Regions from separate parts of the Homo sapiens genome. Here region 2 is linked to region 1. Evidence: fine-mapped expression QTL. A gene starts in region 1. The other region holds a variant in brackets. All regions are shown on one strand. Distances are from middle to middle. Region 1 holds the start of DNAH5-AS1 (DNAH5 antisense RNA 1). Region 2 overlaps DNAH5 (dynein axonemal heavy chain 5).

What was found. PIP is the estimated chance that this variant, and not a neighbour inherited with it, causes the effect.
Region 2: its variant is the best candidate, but not a certain one, in a credible set for the expression of DNAH5-AS1 in cerebral cortex (GTEx, PIP 0.53).

The regions. Positions count from the first base shown.
Region 1 is chr5:13,858,437-13,862,436 of GRCh38, forward strand. It overlaps DNAH5-AS1 (DNAH5 antisense RNA 1), which reads left to right and starts at 2,003. Exons shown (of 3, transcript NR_199035.1): 1 at 2,003-2,119. It overlaps DNAH5 (dynein axonemal heavy chain 5), which reads right to left. Exons shown (of 79, transcript NM_001369.3): 30 at 1,016-1,169. RefSeq lists an enhancer at 431-1,630.
Region 2 is chr5:13,896,918-13,900,917 of GRCh38, forward strand. DNAH5 (dynein axonemal heavy chain 5) reads right to left here. Exons shown (of 79, transcript NM_001369.3): 15 at 3,289-3,495. DNAH5-AS1 (DNAH5 antisense RNA 1) reads left to right here. Exons shown (of 3, transcript NR_199035.1): 3 at 618-4,000. Among named protein-coding and RNA genes, the nearest start is that of DNAH5-AS1, 38 kb to the left of the region's middle. The variant A/G (reference allele first, on the strand shown) is at 2,332.

The DNA of each region.
Region 1 (4,000 bases):
AGGGATAGCATTAGGAGAAATACCTAATGTAGATGACAGGTTGCTGGGTCCAGCAAACCACCATGGCACCTGTATTCCTATGTAACAAACCTGCACATTCTGCACATGTATCCCAGAACTTAAATATAATTTAAAAAAAAAATCCAAACCTCCTACTTAAAACCTTTAAGAAAAGAAGATGAAAAACATGCACAAATACAAATCAAAAATAAAGTAAAATTTTAGTGAGTGAATACATTTCACTATTGCCTCCAAAATAAATGGTCTGCAGTCTGATTTTATCTGTCATCTGTAATTAAACTGAAAACTAACCAAAAAAGAAGTTCAGAAACCTATGTGATGAAAACATTTAAAATAATCATGCTTCTAAAACTGAAATATATTGTTAAAATGTTATAATCTTGCATACGACTTAAGGTAATTGAATAAGAATCCTTGAGAATTGGTTAAAATGTTCATTTAAAAATCTCAAAATATACTCCATATATACCCAGTAAGATGATTACGATTTGATGATAAATATATACTTGACATCTTGAAAAGAAGGTCTTTTTGTTTTGGAGATTTTTTCTGCACATTTCCACCCCTCAATTTTACTGTACAGATATAATTGGGTACATTGTATAGTATGCATTACTTTAAAATGTCTGTAGTAGAAAAACTTAGCCTACCATTGTCAAGATAACTGCACCATAATTCTACACTGTTCCAAATTCTACCTTGAAATTATCTAAAGAAGCATATCAATTATGCGACCACTTATTTTTTGTTTTTTTAACCCTCTATCTCCTATCAAACCTCCACAGTTTTACAGCATTCTTACTCTGATTGTCACCCCTTTCCTTTCCACAATTCCTCACTCCCTTTGAAGAATAACAGCATTAACAGTGACAACAAAAAGATTGAAGGAAGGGGGTTCAATAGAAGTGGAATATTATTGCATTATTTAAGGGGGTAATCGCTCTGAGAGCTTTCTCTGAAAAATCTGATGAAATCATAAAGAAGATTACAAAACCTTGGGCAGCTGCTTGGCAATGTCTCCTCCCACAAAGACAGCTTCTAAATAAATCCACAGGTTTTGCACCGTCATCCAGCTCTCGATGATGTCTGTTGAGTTGGAAAGGTACTGCACCCATTTTTGAATCTGGGCTTTGAATGGCATATTGTACCTAAAATAAGAAATAGGTTTAGGGTTTGGTTTTGTTTTTGTTGTGCTGTTGTTTCAAATTAAAAAGGTTTTTAAAAATCTTAATTTTTAACCGCTTTCTTTACAACCTTAATTATGTTGCTGGCTTTTAAAGTGATGCAACCAAGTGATTAATTCATCCCCACTTACTGTTCATTGTTAGTCTAGCTTTTTCCCTTTTGATCCAGAGCATAGAGAAGGGTGGGAGATTTATAATCTAAGGAGTAGATCAGGCATTAGACTTGATTCCACCAAGCTTCCAGGGTAATATAATTACCCTCAGTGCTGCTATGGCTACGAGAATAATATTTGCCCTACTGAGCTTCTGTGCCTATTTCATGGAGTCTCTGGTTTTTCATATAATATGGAGCTTTTATAGAACCATCAGTGGGGACCAGACAACTAATTCAATCTTCAAATATGATAACACCTGGACTCTCTCCTTAGCCTCCCCTTTTCTGAGTCTCTTTCTAACTTCCCACGCACCTGTGTCCAACCCACTCATGTTTGATGTACATGTGTGCAAGATTACTGCCTCTTCCATAGTTAATCTGTCTTCCCCTTTTCCTCTTTGAGACAGACTGCCTGTGGGTGGCCTCCCAATGTCCTTTTTTCCTTCTGCTTTTCCATGTGGGCTCATAATTACCCAGCTAAATTACTGAATTTCCCAGCTTCCCTTTGCAGTAATGTGCAGTCAGAAGACTAAGTTCCACATCAACAGTGCTTAATTTAGCGGAACACTGGAATGATCTCATAGCTGAACACTGGAATCATCTCGCCAGCATTAAAAATTACTGATGCCTGCCTGGGTCCTACGTACAGAGACTCTGATTCAATGGGTCTGGGAAGTGGCCCTGGCATTGGGATTTTTTTAAGTTCCTTCAGTGTATCTGGTACGTTGCAAAGATTGAGAACAACTCTTCTACATGAAATGTGAGTAGTGGCATTGGATGTAATGGGTAGTATGGGGAATAAGGTCACACCTGGGAAAGACAGATGAGTGAGCCAGACCAAGCTTGGGTCCCTGATGATGTGGTAAAGCCCCCATTCCAACCTGAACCACCTACATTAGGAATTCTTTTATGCGTGAGCAATATAAACATCAGTGTTATATTAGCCATTTTGTATGTGGTGTTTCTGTTATTTACAGACAAACTTAATCCTAAATGATTATACAGCCTACCTTTGTGTCTCTTCTTCTCTTTCTTATCCCTTCATGGTTCTCTCTAGCCCTACATAATATGGACTTGAAGTCGTATTATTGCATAAAAGTTTAATTTCCATATTCTTAATTGTTAACCAAATTGTTTTAATATTCCATGCATCTTTCTGAATATTTGTATGCTCTTCACTAGAAATATAGGTCCATAGAAACAGAGATCTTTCCCTTATTTGTTGTTCTACCCACAGCGCCTAGAAGAGTACATCACACACATAGTAAAGGTTCAATAAATATATATTGAAAAAATACTCCTCCCAATAACTCTATCTGTAGATTAGATGCCATTGAAAAGAAAAGTTTCCCCACCCCAACCAGATAATTTTTACTTAATTTACATGAGTGTCTTTTCTATCTCCCTAGGGTATATTATTGCCTGTCTATCCTTTATTCTGGTTTGGTATGAATAGTAACCAAGTTCATTAAAACTCACTAAATCCTGAGAAGTCCAAACTCAAGATTACTAATGGTCTAACTTTATATCCCAATATTACTTTAGTGTAACAAGTAAACTGAAATAAGAGAAATTTTTTTGAAATAGTATGAAGTACACAGTATTTCCAACATTAAAAGTATTGATACACATATATATGGAGAATTGGGTGATATTTTAAAGCTAGAATAGAACAACAAATTCATATCTCAATGGTATCCACTTTCTGCACAATTACCATATATTTGAGAAGATTCTGGGGAACAAAAACATTATTTCAGAAAGAGCAAATGGAAGCAATGAAACAAGGAAATGTAAATTCATGACTGTGTGGTTTGTATGTCCAAAATGTGAGGGGTGGCCACTATGCATTATATACATGTAATGAAAGTTCACATGTGGACAGGCACAGTGGCTCATGCCTGTAATGCCAGCATTTTGGGAGGCCAAGGCGGGCAGATCACCTGAGACCAGGAGTTTGAGACCAGCCTGGCCAACATGGTGAAACCCTGTCTCTACTAAAAATACAAAAATTAGCCAGGCGTGGTGGCTGTTGCCTGTAATCCCAGTACTCAGGAAGCTGCGGCAGAATCACTTGAGCCAGGGAGGCTGAGGTTTCAGTGAGCTGAGATCACGCCATTGCACTCCAGCCTGGGTGACAAAGCAAGATTCCATCTCAAAAAAAAAAAAAAAAAAAAAAAACAAGTTCAAATGTACCCCATAAATTTGTACAAATATAAAAAATAGAGTATGTAAACAACTAAGAGTTTCTAGTCCACAGATATTGGTAAAAAAGGTTTTTCGAGTAAAATGATTATTCTGAAATTCAAAATAATGTTCCTCCTGGATTCTACAGCCTGTAGAGCTATGAGCTGTGCAGTCAGGCTTGTCAGCAGCAAGCTGAAATGTTCCCAAGAGCCGAGTGGCTAATTATACGTTGCATTATTTTGTCCAGTGGATGGTCTCAGACATACCCCACAAATAGAGGATAATGAAATAAAACCAGAGTTACACATGCTCTAACATGTGCCTGAGGCCAAAATGAAAACAAGAATAATTGAAATATAATCTCTTGATGATGTATATATAAGTGGGTACCTGAGTAAAAATATGTTTTGGATATAAAAATTAATTAATCAATGTAATTAAAACAAGTATTTTC
Region 2 (4,000 bases), 38 kb after region 1:
TGATAATAGATGAATGTTTTCCAAACTGTTTTGCCTAGAGTACTAGGTCCAAAGAGATTCTATAAGAAAAAATGTCCCTTTGATAGATAAATTTTGAAAATGCTGCATACAATATCTCCCCTCTTGGGTGGTCACAGCTAATATTAATGATTCTTAGAAACCTGCTTAAGGAAGTAAGAAGCCTTGCAAGGCTTTGAAAATTTTGTTAAACACAGTATTTCCCAGATGGACCTCATAATCCTTTCCTCATATAATGTTTTTCCACAATTTCTATAAGATTCTTTCAATGTCCATAAAAGCCACTTTAGAAAAGTCTAAATTTTCTGGTTCTATTCGCAGCTACTTACATATTTCCTGAAACTTGTATCCACTGCTTGTTTTTTTTCAATGTCCACCAGTTATTCTATCTGGAAGCAGTTCTTAGAATCTGCTTCTAGCAGGCATTCTACTTCCCACCTTTAATCCCAGAAGGGATTACTCAACTGCTTTGACAAAAGAGAAACCCAGGCTTAGAAGGTGAAGTCATTTACCCAAAGATAATGATTTGAATCCAGATTAAATTGGCTTCAGAACCTATATTTGTAACTATTAGCCTGTACTTGGTCTTCTCTTTCTAGTTAAACTGTCTTCCAAGGAAGAGATGAAGAAACAAATTCTCAGCTACTTTGGCATATCTGCAAAAGCCTGAAAGCTCTGTCAAATATTCAGCACAATAATTCTGCAACACTTCAGATGGTCACCTAAACCTGCCAATAGATCTGCTTTGACCAGCTACTCAGGTTGAGCAGAAACTTTTAACTCTCAACCTCCAAGATAATAAATGTTAATGAGATGATAATTTACTCCCTTGAATTGTCATTTAAAACATTCTTTGATCCTCTTCCCTTCATGGGGGAGGGGGGAACCACATCCCCTTTTTTTGAATCTGGGTAGGTTTACAGTCCAACAGAGTACAACAGAGATGATGCTGTGAGACATCTGAGGCTATTATAAAGACCATGTGACTTCTTTATTGTTCACTGTAGCGCTTGTTCTTGAAACCCTGAGCTGCCATATAAGAAATTCTACTAGCCAGAGGCCTCCATACTGGAAGGCCATGTATAGATGTGCCTGTTCACAGTCCCACTGGAGTGTACCTTCCAGCTTTCCTCAGGAAAGAAACAGAAACTAGAAGAACCCTTCTTGGACCTTACAGATTGAACATCTGCCAGTTGAATACCAATAAACAACCTTTGTCAACAATACATGGAACAGAAGAATCACCTATGCAAGCCCCACTCAAGTTCTTTACCCATAAAGTCATGATATAATGATACGGTTATTGTAAACCCTACAACGTGCTTACAAGTGTTTGTTGCCTGAAACAGACAAGTGAAACAACAACTCTGCAAATACAATTAAATTATCAGTAATTCCATAATCTTATAATTATAGTTTCTTAGTAAAAATATTATTTTCTTTATGAATATGTAAATTGACTAAGTGAGTTTCCTAATGTGAAAGAGTCTAAAAGGGAATCTCAACATGCTGACTGGTATTTTATGAGTCTACATTTGAGGAATGTCTGTCCATTGCCAATACAACTTTTTAATATGACATGAAGTGGTGGGAAGACGATGGACTACAAGTCTGGGTTCTGGTCTTACTTCTGCCACTTTGTAGCTATGAGACCTTTGCTAAATCTTTTAACTTCTCTAAGCCACAGTTTTGTCATCTACGAAATAAAATAATAGTATTCTGTCCTACTTACCTAACGTAGTGGTAGAAAAGATCAGATGAAATAATGAGCATGAAAATGGCTTTAAATGTAAAGTACAGTGCAAGTGCATGGACTTAGTATTGTCACGTGATGTTAACCACTATGAAATTTTAACAATGGTTTCCATGTTGTCAGATTCCATGGCCGCATCTCTGATCTCACCTTCTTCATCCCCTGGGTAGCAGCATTTGCCACTGGTGACCAGTCCCTCTCTCAGTAGCCTTTTCATACCCTTGGCTTCCTTTTTTTGTTGTTTTTTGTTTGTTTGTTTTTTGAGACGGATCTCGCTCTGTCACCCAGGCTGGAGTGCAGTGGTGCAATCTCAGCTCACTGCAACCTCCATCTCTAGGTTCAAGAGATTCTCCTGCCTCGGCCTCCCAAGTAGCTGAGATTACAGGCACATGCCAACATGTTCAGCTAATTTTTGTATTTTTAATAGAGACGGGGTTTCACCACGTTGGCCAGGCTGGTCTCGAACTCCTGACCTCAGGTGATCTGCCAGTCTCAGCCTCCCAAAGTGCTGGGATTACAGGCATGAGCCACCGTGCCCGGCCATCCTTGGTCTCCTTGAC[A/G]CTTGGTTTCTTCCCAGCTCAGAGGTCAGTCCTCTGTTTTATTTGCACACCTGTCTTCTTCTTTCAGATCTGTTAATACTGGAACAACCCAATGCTTGGCCCAGTGGCCCTCCATTCTTCTCTGTCTGTATTCTCTCCCCTAAGAGATCTCATCCAGGACAATGACATTAAATAACAATGATATTCTGATAACTCTCAGAAGCATGCCTCCCACTTTGGCTTCTCCACTGAACTCCAGACTTAAGTATCCAACTGCATGGACAACACTGCCACTTGGCTGTCTAAAAACTATCTTGTACTTAAATGGGAACTACTGATTCCCTCCTGCTGCTCCAAATACACTAGTTTCGGTTTTCGCCATCTCCATAACTTGAACTTACAGTCAGGGCCCCTGCATGGTATTGTGCAAGTTATGAAGAATGCAACCTACACAGCATTCTACGGCACCCCTGCTTTAATTCATGGAACTGCTCACACCAAAACCACAGGTATTATTCCTGAGTTCTCTTATAACCTGACTGTTGACATAACTCTAAATTCTCCAAACAACTCTGCTGCCATCCCAGTTCAAGCTCTCATCTTCATCCTGGGCCAGTGCAACACTTCACAAACAGGCTTCCCGCTGATACCCCTCGTCCCTCTTAACATCCATTTTCCACCCAGCAGTAAGAATAACTTTTATTATAAAAAGAGATCGTGCCTTTTTCAGTGGCTCGAAATCCTCCAATGGTTTCCTGGTACACTCAAAATAAAACCCAAGCTTCTCATCTTGGCCTGCAAGACCTGTAACGGCCTGGCCCCAGCCAACTCTGCAGCTGCACCCCATGGCACTGTCCCCTCAGTCACTCCATTCATCCTGGCCACTTTCTGCTCCTTGAATATGACACATCACCATATTTTTTTATAATACATTCCAGAGCTAGCCAAGAATGGGGGGAAAAAATAAAAGTAGTATACCTTCATGTTACTGAAGTTCCTTTTGTATCTATCTCGTTTCTGGAAGAGGGAAGTTGCCAGTGGAGAGACTTCCAGACCCATCTGGGCCATGCACTCTGTTTCTCTAAATAAGATTAATATCTGAGGGTCAAAGTTTACAAACAATTCCCCTGTGCCTGGAGCCTTCACCAATAATGAAGCCTCAAGACCTACATGAATTTCTTCAATCTGTGGGAAGAAACCAACATCATTACTATCAGAAAGTTCAATTCATGCAGAGTATCTAGCTCAGCTATCTCTAGGAATAAGGATCATTAAATGTTCTTCCATGGATTTGAGCTTCCTAAATTAAGGGCAATAAGATCACTCACTCTTCTCCTAAATCCAGTCTCATACAATAGCCTTCAAGTTCTTGGTGTTGATGTTGGGCAGTCAATTCAATAAAACCTTTCAATGACTCTAACACTGATAAATAAGTGGACACTGCAACAGTGGTGGCGTCTCAAAAGCCATTTAGCTACCTGATACCTTCATGCCTACTCTATTATTCTTCCTAATAAAAGTTTCGTAAGACCTCCTAAACTCAGTTTTTACTTATCTAGAAAAACAATGAACACAGCTATGGAGACATCGCATCCTGACAGCCTACAAAGAAATACATGTATTGGTAGGATATGCTATGATTAACCAGTTGTACAACAAAAGAAAATTTGAAACTTTGTTTAACAGATGT